2 separate regions of the Homo sapiens genome follow, and region 1 is linked to region 2. The links come from fine-mapping of genetic effects on gene expression. Tissue or cell type: whole blood. Region 2 holds a variant in brackets; the other region holds the start of a gene. All regions are shown on one strand. Distances are from middle to middle.

Region 1 (8,106 bases), 570 kb before region 2:
ACCTTGACCTGGTAAGGATGTGGTATTCCACTGCTAGATCTACAGGGGCTAGGAGCATCTCTAGCAAGAAAGCCATAAACTCTGACTTCCTACCCAATCAATCACAGTCTTTCAATAGTAACCTCTTCTTATATTTCTGCCTTTGGCATTTTCCAGAATCTTACAGTTGTTTTTAATAATCTGGCCAGTTTTCATCATTGTTATCTGCAGGGGAATCTGACCTCTTCAAGCTACTGTTCCTTGAAATGTCCCTGGACTATTTTAATAGCCTCTTATATTGTATTCCTGTTTCTTCCCTTAATTTCCTTCACCTTTCTTACCTTCTCTTCTCCACACAGAAACCAGGTGATTTGAAACATAAATCACACGGTATCACATCACCACACAAAATTCTCAAAGAGCTTCGCATTTCACTCAGAATAAAAGCCAAATACTGAGTACAGCCTACAAGTTTTATGTGAGGATGTCCTGGGCTACCTCCAAATGCCATCTCTCACCGGTCTCACCAAGACTGCTCAGCTGTGTTTAAAATGCACCAAGCGTGCTCCAGCTTGGGCACCTGCTGTTCACTTCACGTGAAAGATATCCCTTTCTATATATTAGCTGAATTACCTTTCACAGTATCCCATCAGGCAGGTACTAAAGTTACCCCCATTTTACAGATGAGGAACTAATGTACAACGAGTTGAAGTAAATTGCCCAAGTTAGCACAGCTACTAAGTGCTGGAGTCAATATTTGACCCCAGGAAGTCTGTCTGGAAAGCCATAATTTATGCACTGAAAAGATAGTTATTTCTAACATATTTGCTTTTTATTTTAGAGAATTAAATATTTTATTCTAGTTCTTTTTAGACGAACAATGAAGAAGAAACTCTTAGGACTCTAATGAGACAAGAAGATCACCTGGCACATGAAACCTACTGAAATGGACACACTGAGGACTTTTAGAAAAAACTTTGTTCCATAAAACACCAAATGATTGTGCCGAACATCTGTTAGTGTGCTTTTCCAAACTGTGCATTGCGCTCTGGGAATTATGTTTACTTGTAACTCCTCACAAAATATCAGCAGAAGACTGAGAGGTGACAGCGTGCCGGCAGCCCTCACTCGCTCTTGGCGCCTCCTCAGCCTTGGCGCCCACTCTGGCCACGCTTGAGGAGTCCTTCAGCCCACCACTGCACTGTGGGAGCCCTTCTCTAGGCTGGCCGAGGCTGGAGCTGGCTCTCTCAGCTTGCAGGGAGGTGTGGAGGGAGAGGCACGGGTGGGAACCAGGGCTGCGCGCCACGCTTGCTGGCCAGCGCGAGTTCCGGGTGGTTGTGGGCTTGGCAGGCCCAGCACTCAGAGCAGCCGGCCAGCACCGCTGGCCCCAGGCAGTGAGGAGCTTAGCACCCAGGACAGCAGCTGCGGAGGATGCACCAAGTCCCCCAGCAGTGCCGGCCCACCAGCGCTGCTCTTGAATTCTCACCGGGCCTCAGCTGCCTCCCTGCGGGGCAGGGCTCAAGACCTGCAGCCCGCCATGCCTGAGTCCCCCTCCCCCCCACCGTGGGCTCCTGCGTAGCCCAAGCCTCCCCAACGAGCACCGCCTCCTGCTTCACAGTGCCTGGTCCCATCGACCGCCCAAGGGCTGAGGAGTGCGGGCGCACGGCATGGGACTGGTGGGCAGCTCCACCTGCAGCCCCAACGTGGGATCCACTAGGTGAAGCCAGCTGGGCTCCTGAGTCTAGTGGGGACTTGGATAAACTTTATGTCTAGCTAAGGGATTGTAAATACACCAATCAGCACCCTGTGTCTAGCTCAAGGTTTGTAAATGCACCAATCAGTGCTCTGTGTATAGCTGATCTAGTGGGGACTAGGAGAACTTTCATGTCTAGCTCAGGGATTGTAAATGCACCAATCAGCACCCTGTCAAAATGGACCAATCAGCTCTCTGTAAAATGGACCAATCGGCAGGATGTGGGTGGGGTCAGATAAGAGAATAAAAGCAGACTGCTGGCGCCAGCAGCGACAACCCTGTGGAAGCTTTGTTCTTTCACTCCTTGTGATAAATCTTGCTGCTGCTCTCTCTTTGGGTCCACACTGCGTTTGTGAGCTGTAACACTCACCGCAAAGGTCTGCAGCTTCACTCCTGAAGCCAGCGAGACCACGAACCCGCCAGAAGGAAGAAACTCCGAACACATCCAAACATCAGAAGGAACAAACTCTGGACACGCCGCCTTTAAGAACTATAATACTCACTGAGAGGGTCTGTGGCTTCATTCTTGAAGTCAGTGAGACCAAGAACCTAACAATTCCGGACACAAGACCATACTCCTTGTGAGTCCCTAGTGGAAATCTATTTCAGTCTCCTTACAGCTCCTTAAACATACCTTGTAGGCTCCCTCGTCAGGGCATTTCTGTTTCCTGTTGTCACTAAATGGACTGCTTTCCCTCCAGAGATCTTCATGGCTCGGTTTTTTTCTTATCTTTTCAGCGTTAGAGTCACCTCAGTGAGGTCTTGCCAGGACAACTTACTTAAAAATGCAAACATTTTCCTCTTCTTCCCCTTACTTACTCCTCCCTTATCTAGTATACTTTTTTTCTTACAGCACTAAAAAAGTTTCAAATCAGATGACCCAGGTTTGAGAATCTTCCATTATCAGCTATATCCCTTGCAAATTAACTCCTCAAGTTATAATTCCACAAATCGACAATAACAGAACCTATCTTGCAAGGCTGATGTAAAGATTAAAAGAGAAAATACACATGAAGACACTTAGCACACTACAGGGTATATAGTAAATATCAAATAATCCAATTATTATTAGAATATGTAAGACAATCTGACTCTACCATTGTCTGGAGACCAGGCTAAACACGTATTAAAGTCTTACACTCTAAACTTGAGAGTAGTTTCATTTTATTTATTTAAAACTAACATGAGTAACTCATTAATTCCTCCATTCAACAAATATTCATCCAGTATCTAATGTATGCCAAGTATTTTACCAAGTGCTGGGAATACATCAGTTGACAAGTCAGACAAAGACTCTGCTCTTTTGGAGTTTAAGTAAAATTGTCATATCATAAGTGCCATATATTTATTATGAGAGCAAACTGAAGAAGTGCCTAACTTTTCAATAACAATTACTTAAAAAAACAACAACAGTATTTACCAAGTGCTATTATAAGAGGTCCCTCTAGTGATGCTTTGCATTCAGAGAATGCTCAATGAATAAAGTTCACTAGTAAGGGTAACTTTGGGAAGTCTAGAAGGAAAGTAAAAATCCCAGAAGCCTGTTGGTGTCCATCATTCTACTTCCAAAATATGCTTGCCTGAGAAGAATCTACATTTCTTGAGGGTAGGAAAAGCTTGAGCCTACAAAAATTCAAGACACATATTAGGTACTTTAAAATAGTTTTTAAATGAAATAGTGACTATCCGAATACCATCCTAGTCCAAGATACAATCATCTGTTGTACTACTGAGGTAGTCTCCTAACTGGCCTCTCAGCTTCAGCTTTTGCCCTAGTCTATTCTTCAAATAATTCACAGTTATCTTTTCAAATGTGAATTAGGTCACTATGTTGCCTAAATAATCCCAAGGGTTTCCGTCACACTTAAAATCCAAAATCCTTCCAAGGCCTAGAAAGGCCTGTGCCATCTGGCCTCTGCTTGCCTCCCGTCCTGCACCTGCAGCCCCTCACCTGGCTAGAGCCAAGCCTAGCCTGCGGTTCCCACCGCCTGCAACCCCTCCCTGTGGCTCTGCAGCTAGTGCCTTCTCATGTTCCTGACCTCCTAAATTGAGGCAGCCTCCTTACACAATCCCTACCACATTACACTGTTTTTATTTTCTACTTCATTACCACCACTTGAAATTATCTTTATTAACTGTTGAGTAATCTTCCACCACATGCTGGCATTTATAAAACCTGTGAGAGCACTGCTCCCCTAGTTTCCCTAGCGTCAATTATTATGGAATTACTAGATGAAGGAACTCCCCTGCCCTGTTTCCTGCTTTCTTTAAATTGTGGACATACACAAGCACCCAAAGAAAGAGTGATCCTGATTCCAAAGAACATCCCCACCCCACCCCTCAACTAATCCGACCCCTCCTCGGTTTCCCAGCGGGCCGCCCCGCCTCCGCCGCCACGCACCTGGTTCTGCTGGCTTCCACCAGGGGGCTCGCTTCGTCTGCCGGGACCTTCTCCTCCGCCTCCCTTCCCGCCCCGCCTACCCCACCACCCACCTGCTTCCCACTCTGCTTCCACTAGGGGGCGCGTCTCTGAGGGCAGGGCCTCCGTCTCCGACGCTGACTTCCTCAGCGCAGCCAGCACTGTCTCCGGTGGCAAGTCGACCAGCTCCTCCCACACGGATTCTGTGTAGAAATCCACGGTATGTGCATTGGAAATGGACAGGGCATCCCTCAGGAACTGCAGCAGTCCCTGCAACTTGGCACGCAGCGTGGGCAGGTCCGGGGTCACCGGGAGAGGGCAAGAAGCCGCCATGACGCTCACCCTCCGAGGCTGTAGGTGGCGCAAACATGGCCGTGAGGCGCCAGCTCGGCCCAAATTAGCACAGGCAGGCTCAGTAGAGCTCCGAGCCGGATTCCTTCTGAGCGATTGATTGCTTCGGCTTGGTGACGTATTTTGTGGGCGTCCGTCGTGGTCTTCTGATGACGCAGTTAGTCGGCTGCAATGGCGCCGGTGAGGCGGTCCGCGAAGTGGCGGCCTGGTGGTATTGAGGCGCGTGGTGAAGGGGTTTCCACTGTCGGGTACAGGAATAAGAATGTGAGACAGAAGACATGGCGGCCTAACCACCCGCAAGCCTTCGTGGGGAGCGTTCGCGAGGGTATGTAAGAAGGCAACCATTTGCAAATCCTCAGGCTTGCTAAGTTTTAGGATATAAGATTCGCTGAAGCTTGGAAGAAGGATTTAGGAACCAGACCCGGTCCTACTTGGGGCAAGGGAATTCATTCCTGAGCCCGCTAAAGCTGTGAGCTTCGCAGAGCTCTAGATAGGAAGACGGAGCAGTGTTGCTATTATTTAAACGTCTTTTCTGACGTAACCCTGTATTTCATCAGAACTTTTTTCCTATATTTTTCCTGAGAAACTGAGCAGAGAGAGTCTATGACCCTGTGAACTCTTGCGCATGTGGTAAGGTAAAGGATAGAGAGGAGGACAGGGCCAGAAACACTGCTCCGAATTCTTCCTTATTACAAATACCCGAGGCCCTCCAGCCTTCGCTTTAATTTGTGTTTGTCATTTTGTATTGCTGTCTGTAAGGTCTCTTAGATCCCACTTGGAATATATAAATGTTAAATTCAGTCTTCCGATAATTGCTAGCTTTTCAGACAACCATACACTGTCTTTTTCTTTCGTGTTGAAACATTTTCGAAAACATGTAGTTTGTCCAAGATACTAGATGTGGCATTTTCTTTCCTATTTTTTAAGCATTTATTGAAGGCTCAGATTAAGTGTTTTAGATGAACTAAGGAATTTGTTTTGATTTGTGAATACAGCTGTAAACTCAAGTTGTGCAACAGTCTGAACTGGTCAGTTTTTCTTTGAGATTCTTACTTGGATTTCCGCATGACTGTTAGCCTGGTCTTTTTGCAAAGGGCCAACTTACTATGCAATCCATCAGCTTAAATTTGTTGCTTGAAATAATTTTTTAAAGCAAAATATAATACTAGAATCTGAATGTGATGACGTAAAAAAAGTTTTCATTTGTAATTAACAGCTCCATTCTTCGTTCAACTTCTTTTCTCTGAAAGTAATTTTGGATGATATTCCTCAATGTAGGACAAGGCTTTGCTTTTCGAAGAAAACTGAAAATACAGCAAAGTTACAAGAAATTGCTACGGAAGGAAAAGAAGGCTCAAACGTCACTGGAATCTCAATTCACAGATCGATACCCAGATAATCTGAAACATCTCTATTTAGCTGAAGAGGAAAGACATAGGAAGCAAGCAAGAAAAGTCGACCATCCTTTGTCAGAACAAGTTCACCAGCCGTTGCTTGAAGAACAGTGTAGCATTGACGAGCCTTTATTTGAAGATCAGTGTAGCTTTGACCAGCCTCAGCCAGAAGAACAATGTATTAAAACAGTAAAGTATGTATTTTCTTCATTTGAAATCCTTTAAGTGTTGTTTTATTATTTAAAAGTACTATAGGATAATTTATATAGGAATTGTATTTTTTCTTATTTAACACATTTTAGAAGTCACGGTTTAATTAGGGAAACATTTTCATGGAGGCTCTATTTTTAGCTTCAATAACTGAATTAGGCTGGTTTAGCCTAATTGACAAAGTAACGTAATGGGAATTAAGAGCTCTGGAATTTGGGTTTCTTCCTCTCAAGTACAGGTGGTAACTTGATTGGACCATATGTTATGACTATATTTTTGAAAAATAACTTCTGAGAGGTGTTATAATTTTAGTCATTAACAGTATGGGTTCTAGAGCCAGACTCAACATGTTAGTGCCCCAGTGACCTCTTCTTTAAAATGGGAAAAATAACACTATGTCCTCTTTAAATTGGGAAAGATAATACTGTAATGAATATATACTTCAGAGCTGCCATGTTGCACAGCTCCAGAATGGATTACTCACATAAACTCAGGTGTTCCTAAGGTGTTTCATGACATTGTTGTGAAGACTCAGCGAGTTAATGTATATGAGGATCTTAAAGGGTATATATGGTACGTGGTTAGTGCTCTTGAGCGTTAGCTACTACTATTAATCTGGATTTTCTGCAGAGGACCAGAAATGGGTTGCAATTGCAAATGCACAGCTCCGTGACGCTTTGGTTTTATAAGAGTTAACTTATAAAAAACTATCGCTGCATACTTAAAGTTAAAAAACAATGCTAAAATCTAAAATTGCAAGAAGCTGGGTATTAACTTGGGAGCATAATTTTTTACTTCATTAAAACCGTATCTTTTAAAGTCGTGAGCTATTTGCGCTAAAAATAACAGGAAATGGGACCACGGGGGGTAAAAATGTAATTGGGGATGAAGGCAGAGACACAAAAAGTTTACTACTTTTGGTAGGCTTGATCATTATATTGTTAAATAATCAGTATAAAGTTCAGGGAAAAGATTAGCAGTAGAAATGTAGATTTGAGTTATTCTCTGATAATTGAAGTAAGGAAGTTTAAATCATGAGAAAGGAAGGTAAAAAATCATGCTTTTAAAGATTACGGTTTATTTTGGGGTGGAAACAGGGAAAATATTGTCATTGAGGAAGTTAAGCTTTTCAGGACTGGAGAAAGAGAAATACAGTGACAGCTCAGTCCACAGAGAAAAGTTGTGAGGGATTAGTCAGCTATCAAATATTGTGGTCCCCCGTTATCTGTTTGGAAGATGTTCCAAGACCCCCAGTGGATGCCCTGAAACTGCAAATGGTACCAAACCCAGTTTCTGTCAATTGGAATGTATTTCTGTTAATGTCTTTTACTTGGGAATTTAATGCCTTTTCCATCTTAAATCACGTACTGTGGCCATAACTTTTGCAGTTTGAAGTATGACAGCAAAACTAGCATGAATTTATTTTTCCTTCACAATTTGATGTATAGAAGATTTTTTTTAAAACCATAGATCTTAGCAACTTCAACATACGATTTTTTTTCCTTCCTTATTAAGTCAAGAACTTTTACCTTTTCACTTAAAGCAAACACTCAGTGTGGTGTACAATTTAAAACATATGAATTGTTTATTTCTGGAATTTTTCAATTTAATATTTTTGGACCTCTGTTGACTGCAGGTAACTGAAACCGTGGAACAGGGAAACCATGGATAAGGGGTGTGCTACTGTACTATAAAGTTGAAGGTGAATAGGACTGAGGACAGGTCTCTGGATTTGTGGACTAGGCAGTCACTAGTCACTAGTCCAAAGTCGCTAGTGATTAGTAGCTATTAAAATATTATATTGTAGTTACAGAGTATAGTGAAAAGTTGAATGATAGAGGAAAGTAAAGTTATTACTGAATCAAGGATGCTGAGGAAATGAATGGAATTCCAAGTAGTTGGATTAGCCTTGACAAAAAGGACATCTTCAGAGAGGTGAGAAGTAGTTAAAGATAGAACAGTTCAAAATGGTATCTAGATCCAAGGTATGGTGATTCATG
Region 2 (8,111 bases):
TCAATAAGATTGGCTATAAATGGGAAGATATGGAGTAGTAATTGGTAGACTATATGGATGGTAGGAGGGGCTTAAAAAGATGGATAAGACTTGAGTACGTTTACATATTTGTAATAATGAGTCAAAAGAAGAGGAGAGGTTGATAATAAAAATAGAGGTTGAGAAAAATCAACAAAACAGGAAAAGAGCTCCAGAGAACCGGCATATATGTGAAGCTGATGTGATACTCAATTGTAAATACTCTGTAAAGAATACATTTATACATGTGTGAAGCAAGCTAAAGTGAATGAGAAACAACAGAAAAGAAAACTTATTAAGAGGGGATAAAATAATAAGTTATGAAGGCAAACCTTCAGTAATTTGAAGGGAATTTCATTACAAAATGCATTAAATAAATGAAAAGTTGATCATCGTAGTAATGGGTTTTAAGTTTTATGAAATGCTGCTATAATTAGGTTAGAATTTTCAAGTGGAATTTAAGTGATCATTGTTGGAGATGCAAAATATTCATGGAACCTGTAACCAAGATGTTATTAAAGTGTTCAGATAAATACAATTCTGGCACAAAATAATAAGCTTTCATTTATAATTCTGAATCTCTATAAAATTTGCACCCAAGTATTTTTATAGAATCTAATATTCTAACAATTTTTACAGTTTCTGAATGAGAACTTTTGAAAGTCAATTTAGCTTGAATTTGTTTTATATTTGAAAACCCATAAAACTGGATATATAGATATGAAATGAAAAAATAATCTGTTTAAAAACTTTAATTTCATTCTGTCATTACTTCATCTTTTATACAGCAGTGTAACTCCACAAAGGTTTATTTTATTGTCTACAGTTGACTGTGTCATTCTGTCTGTCCATTACTTATGCCTACTACTGAAGTCAATATGTTTATATGCCACAGCAGATAAAGGCAAGGTTTCTTTATTATTAAGGTACATAATGTGATGACTCTAGTGAAAACCTAAAAACAAAAAAATCCTCTATATTCCATTTTAGAAATGTGACATATTAGACAGGCATGGTGGCAAATGCCTGCCTGTGCTGGGGCAGGAGAATTGCTTGAACCTGGGAAGCCAAGGTTGCAGTGAGCTGATTGAGCCACTGCACTCCAGCCTGGGTGATGGAGACAGACCCTGTCTTAAAAAAAAAAAAAAAAAAAAGAATTGTGACTTTCTCATTGTGTAACAATACAAACACTAGTCCATGTCTTTTCTTCAAGTGAAACTGAATGAGATACAACTTTCAGTACATTAACAAGAGAAAAAATTTCATAGACTAGCCATCCGATTCTCCATGACTATTGGTGATACATTCTATTTAAAGGCATTATTTACCTAATATGTCCAAACATTTTTAATGAAAGAGTTTACTTCCCTTTAGATAGAATCACAATAATTTAACTTATGTTTATACTTATATAGATATAACCATAAAATATGGTTCACTTCATAGTTGTGAAAAACATTGTGCACAGAAACTAATATTTTTCTAATGCAGTGAAATAACGGACGTGAAAGATACTATATCTGCACACATATTAAGAATAAAGATGGCTTTTGAATTTATACATGTCTTTTAATTAAACTGAAATATTTTAATGTGTTATTTCAGTTTAATTACTAAAAATAACTCCAAAAAAATGACAAAAACTAAAGGAGAATAATTTTTCTTTGTTTTAGGCCTTTTCTTATATACTAATTATCCATGTGCGCAGCAAGCTCTTTGTAAACTGTAAAGCCCTATGCAAATATATTTTTATTGATTTTTCTAGATCACTAGAGTGATTCTATTTATCAAAACTTGTGACAATTAGGAGAGCAAACATAAAAGAAGGGTTTTATAAAACTGTAAAATTTTATTTTGATTTGTCATAAAGTTTTATAATGATACACCTACACATCCCAGCCCCAAAGTCTTTTTGTGAGCAAATATGTCTTTAAAATTAAAGTAGAATATTCTAATAAAAATGCTAATTAACCAACGTGATGGTTTTATTATCCTTATAATAGACTAGGTGCTATGTAACATATGAATTGTAGCTGATCCTTTTTTGGTTCAAAAACATTTAATTTGGTTTTGAAAATCCTAATTACAGAATGACTCAGTGACTTAGCACAGAGCTAAATAATTGCTTTTGTAGTGAAACAAAACAAATATTCTCAAAGCATATTTTTGTTTGTCAGTGCTGACTTTTCACACAATAAAGGTAAAGGCAAAAAAGTAACTCGAAAGATAGTATAACTTGTGTTACAGAATAATTAATTCTTCCATTCTACACTATATTAAGAGAAATGTCCTATCTTAGATGAACTCGAGTGTGGAGTATACAGGAAAATTAATTGGTATAGAGGAGAACATCTATCCTAAGAGGAGATGAGGAATGAAGGGTGCTTGTGAACCGAAAGTGACTGGGAATGGTGATGGCTTCCAAAGGGCAGAGCTTGTCAACAGGAATTTCTGGTCCATAGCAATCTTTACACACCAGGCAAGGGTCATTTTGTGGCTCCTAGGGCCATCTAATTCCCTGCAGCACAAAGAGCTGCTGGTGTCAGGGATCAGGAGCCACTCTAGGAGAATAGAACTGAAAATACTAGACAAAGTGTCTGGATACCAGCCATGTGGTTAGAGTTTCAGGAAAGAACTCCACCTATAAAGAAAATTTGAGAGTACAACAAAGAACTGGAGTAGAAAAGACAGAATTTGGGGAGAAGGATGAAGCTCAGAGAGCTCTATGATATTTGGAAATCTCTTCAAAGTACTAGCTTCAAAATATGCCTTGATAAGCTTGATTCCAGAGTCTACATTGCTGATTTCCCACATATTTCACTGCAGGAAGTGAAATATACAATGCCTATAACTGAGTTGTGAAAAGTTTTCAAAAACTTTTAAAAAAACAGAAATAATTGTACAAAATCTGTACTCCAACCAGAGTGTGTGTGAATATTTATATGCATATATTTTTAATATGTAATAAAATATATAAAAATATAAATAGAATCATGTAAAGTATAAAATCAACAACATAGGGGGTTGAGATCTGTTGGTTCAGAGAGGAAATCAACATCAAAATGAGCAAATCTCTATAAAATAATAACCAAAGTCAAAAATCCATGTAGATTTCTGCTCTGGTCAAGATGAAGTTATGAGACTAGATGTACCTTCCCACCCTAACCACTAAAAAATAAACATACAAAATCTATAAAACAATGGTATTCAAAACACTGGACATTAATCAAGGAAGCACAAAGATCCCTAAAAGTTGTGAGATAAATAAGATACGTTCTTCCCCAACTTATTGCCTTGATAGAGTTTTTGCGCTGTGCTGCACAAAGACAGGGTACTAAGTAGAGCCTGGCATGTTCCCTAAGTTGAGGTGGATGGAGTCCGGCAGGTCAGACACCCGACAGGAGAGGGTTCTACGGTGGATTCCCCTGGAGTATTCAAGAGAATACTCATCAGCACATGCCTACAAGAAAACTACTGGGAAAA[G/T]CTGGGAAAAGAACTACACAAAATGATGGGTAGGTTTTTGATAAGCGTGACATAAAATACAGGAACCCTCAAGTAAAGACTGATAAATATATTTACATAACAACTTAAAATACTCTGGAAAAAGGCAAAAGGCAAATAACAAACAAATAAAAATATATGCAATACATAAGACAGATGAGGGTCAGCTTCCTTATTATGCCAAAACTCTCATACAAATTAAGAAAGAGACTAATAACTCGATGGAAAAATTCAAACACTGTAAAACAGATATATGTGTAAAAATGACTATTTCGGGATTGTTTATAACTGAAAATGTTCTATATCCTAGCAAGAATGGAGGCATTATTTTGTTACATATATGTTTTGTTTCTATACTATTTTGACCAATCAGAACTGAATAAGTTTGAATCCTTCATTTGCATAAATCCCAAATATATATTGAAATTTATGCAAATAATGATTTGCATAAATAATACTCCAATATATTCTATCCAGAACAAAGTCATTAAATATATTTAATGTGTTACACAAAATAGATTTAATGGCTTTGTTCTTGATACAATATATTGGGATATCATTTAATATATAGAAAGAATATGGGAAATCCATACATCTTAATATGGGCAGAAGAACAAGACAGGTTATTGTGCAAATAAGTCAGAATTGTAGAATAATAATATAATATGATCCTACTTTTATAAAATTAAAAAAATACATTATATGTTTATGTAATACAAAAAGAAAATAAAGTGATACAAGTCTGTGAAAAGACTTATCTAATGATTAACATAAGAAAATGACATGCCAATAACCAATAAATCTATGAATATATAGTTATGTTAAATGACACATTGAAAAAAGTTGAAAACATCAGTGTGGACAACTGCTAAGTAAAACAGAAACTCTCAAATATTTGGTTTTAATATAACAAGATTGAACACCTTTGGTAATCGATAAGGCAGCAAATATTGAAACTATTTCTTTTTTTTTTTCTTTTTCTTTTTTTGAGACGGAGTCTCACTCTGTCACCCAGGCTGGCATGCAGTGGTGTGATCTCAGCTCACTGCAACCTCTGCCTCCCAGGTTCAGGCGATTCTCCTGCCTCAGCCTCCCAAGTAGCTGGGACTACAGGCCTGCACCACCATGCCCGGCTAATTTTGTATCTTTTAGCAAGAGACAGGATTTCACCATATTGGCCAGGCTGGGTTTTGAACTCCTGACCTCAAGTGATCTGCCCTCCTCAGCCTCCCAAAGTGCTGGGATTACAGGCGTGAGCCACTGCACCCAGTCGAAACTATTTTTTTTTAACTAGAAATCCTGCTTGTAGAAATCTATTACATAGACAAGTGAGGAAGAACAGATGCATACAGGTAGCCAGTACTTACAATAGTCAAACTAATGTGAAATAAAACTGTAAAATAAGACCCAAACCTCCCCAGATCAGAGAGACTCCCTGTGGCTAATAAAGATGCTCTAAATTTAAAAGCATAAACAGGTAGCAGAGCAGGAAGAGATAGAGTCCTGGCATATACTTGGGTTCCTAGCAAAAGCGGCTCTTGACAAACATTCTGCTTTACCTTGCAGAGTCAGAAGAGTTCTTGTAACCAGAGACAAGATAAACTCAGGCCAGAAACACACCTCACTGACCATTTGAAATAAGTACCTGACAGAAACTTCTGGTTTGGGGCTTAGAAACAACTCAATTAGGGCTTAACTATTTTGACCAATCAGAATTGAAAGGTTTGAATCCTTCATTTGCATAAATGAACCTGGTAAAGTACTTAGGTGAGAACTTTTCCTATTTAAGCCAGATCCTTTCTTTGTTCATTTACATTTTCACTTGTGCTGAAGGCTCTGTCTCCCCAGTCTGCAGATTTTTTTTTAATGGAAAATAAAGCTCTCCCTTTTCCTTCCACAGATCTCATGGACCTTTGTTAACACCAAAAACAAGTTAATGACCATTCATAAGAAACTACTTTAAAAATTAAGGTTTTAAAATATAATTAATATTCTTCAAGTTTTTAAAAAGATGTGGTATAAGGAGAATTTTTTGATGTCAGTTTGCCTCTCCAGATCCACTCCCGTCTCTCTCCACCAAGTTTTGTGCTACCTAGACTTGTAAATAAGATTTCTTGACCTCTGGACCCATAAGTTTTCTTGACCTCTGCCCTCTTGTTGAGTGGAAGAGGAAGATGAGCTAGGGTTCTCTGCTCTCCCCACTCCCTGCTGGGCCACTAAGGTTAGAGTGGGCAGATGATTTTCATTTCCTGTAAAACAGGCCTATCTACACAATTCTCTCTGATGTCAAGGAACGCTACACATTAAGCCATTGTTTTTTAAAATCCAATACATTACCTTCAAAATAAAATATGTGTCCATATCTATTTCTATGTATCTATCTTCTATTATGCATATGAATATACCTATCTATATCTCATTAAATTTCAATTCATTTATTTATATACATATAACTAAAATAGTATATACATTTACAACTATTTTTAGTTGAATTTCGTACATAAATAATATAACTCTTCCTTGTAGCTAATGAGCAATGTCAAAAGTCTGAAACTTATATCATCAAATAAAATTACTAAATGTGCTTTATGTTTAGAAAATATAAGGTTTTGGTATTTTTAAACTGTTTATTTTCTTATGAATATGAAGAAAGATTTCTCTGTATTTGTGAGAAATGTTTTTCTTTTGTGCTATCAGACTGAAGTGATAAGTTTTACTTGGGAAGCTACTATTTTACATGTGTTAAATGAAAGAGTATATTTTATTTATTTCTATTTTACTTAGGAAGCTCCAATATTGTTTAATATAAGTAGTTGATATTCTGAAACCCTCTCACTTATTATTTCTACCCCAAGATTAGCGGCTCCTTTAAAATACTGGAATATGCTTTGAACGAAGGACATAACACAAATTAATAGAATCTCTGACTAACGCATAAAAAACTTCTTCTAATGTAACCATGGTTTTATCATTGAACATTTCTATTGTTAGTTCCCTATTCTAGTGGGGAAAGGCAAAACAGCAGGACTTTTTGATATCAAGATAATTTGAATGTGAAATGATAGAATATAATACAAAACGAAGATAGCTGAACTTTATGTGAGTATGGGTTTAAAAATATTTTTTTTATTTACAAAAGGTAATATAGATTCCTATACCAAAGCAATACCTCTAATTTGAAGCATTGTTTATTTTGAAGAATGAATTACATGATGACACATTAGGGCAAACTGTCAGTACTGGTGCTTAAATATTGTGATTACAACTATTACAACTATTATTGCTAGTCAGGGGCAGAGATCACTTCGCTTGAATTCCTTGATGATAATTTATTGCTAAAATGCGGTATAAAAGGGATAGCTACAATCAATGGACCTGTAATTTATATATCTGTGATAGATATTTAAGGTTAGAATATTTATTGTTAAAATAATATGGTCCCTAAAATGTGGTATAAAAAGGATAGCTGCAATCAATGGACCTGCAATTTATATATCTGTGGTAGATATTGTCAGGTTGCTATGTACAAAGACAATAAAGAAGGCAAACCAATGGGAAAAATATCAAAGATTCAAGCTGAATCAAAAGCAAGGATATTTTACAATAAGGTTTTATTAAGATAAGCTTTAACATTAATAAATGTTAAATTAATAAATTTTACCAAGGGTAAAGTTTGGTTTTCTCTCTTTTTTTATTTCTAACATGTTTATTTTAAAGTCCTTTGAAAAGGTTTCATAAGACATGGTAAAAAGTGAAGCAGCAAGATAACATTTGTGTTGTAGTTTTCATAACTTAATTTGCTCTTTGCAAGCTAAATGTTCTCACAAATTCTTGTCATTTGGGTAATGTTTATATTAAACATTTCATACCAATTAGCTTTTAAGCAAAACCTTTTCCTAGATCATCTATATTTTCTTATTTTTTTTCTTTTGACATTTATTTTAAGTTTGGGGTAGGTGTGCAGATTTTTCATGTGGGTAAATTGTGTGTCTCTGAGATTGTGTGTCTCTGAGGCACATGAATAATCCTGTCACCCCAGTAGTGAGCATAGTACCTGATAGGTGGTTTTTCAACCCATGCCTTGTTCCACCCTCCCCACTCAAGTAGTTCCCAGTGTCTGTTGTTTCCATCTTGGTGTCTATGTGTATTCAGTGTTTAGCTCCCACGTATGAGTGAGAAGATAACAGTATTTGGTTTTCTGTTCCTGTGTTAGTTCACTTAAAATAAGGGCCTTCAGCTGTATCCATGTCACTGCGAAAGACATAATTTCATTGCTTTTTATGGCTGCATAGTATTTCATGGTGTATATGTGCCAAGTTTTCTGTATCCAGTTCACCGTTGATGGGCATCTAGGTTGATTCCATGTCTTTGCTATTGTGCATAGTGCAGCAGCAAACATATCAGCACATGTGTCTTTTTGTTAGAATGATGTATTTTCCTTTGGATATATACTCAGCAATGGGATTCCTGGGTAGAATGGTAGTTCTAAGTTTTTTTTGAGGAATCTCCACATTGCTTTCCACAGTGACCAAACTAATTTACACTCCCACCAGCAGTGTGTGTGTTCCCTTTCCTCTGCAACCTCACAGGCA

The links. PIP is the estimated chance that this variant, and not a neighbour inherited with it, causes the effect.
Region 1: it holds the start of CCDC59, and the variant in region 2 is fine-mapped to the expression of CCDC59 in whole blood (INTERVAL, PIP above 0.99).

Annotation. Positions count from the first base shown.
Region 1 is chr12:82,354,944-82,363,049 of GRCh38, reverse strand. CCDC59 (coiled-coil domain containing 59) reads left to right here and starts at 4,663. Exons shown (of 4, transcript NM_014167.5): 1 at 4,663-4,827; 2 at 5,781-6,090. The coding sequence starts at 4,674. METTL25 (methyltransferase like 25) reads right to left here and starts at 4,521. Exons shown (of 12, transcript NM_032230.3): 1 at 4,226-4,521. The coding sequence starts at 4,484. RefSeq lists enhancers at 3,733-4,293, 4,224-4,783, 4,294-4,854.
Region 2 is chr12:81,780,578-81,788,688 of GRCh38, reverse strand. No RefSeq gene overlaps it. Among named protein-coding and RNA genes, the nearest start is that of PPFIA2, 25 kb to the right of the region's middle. The variant G/T (reference allele first, on the strand shown) is at 3,502.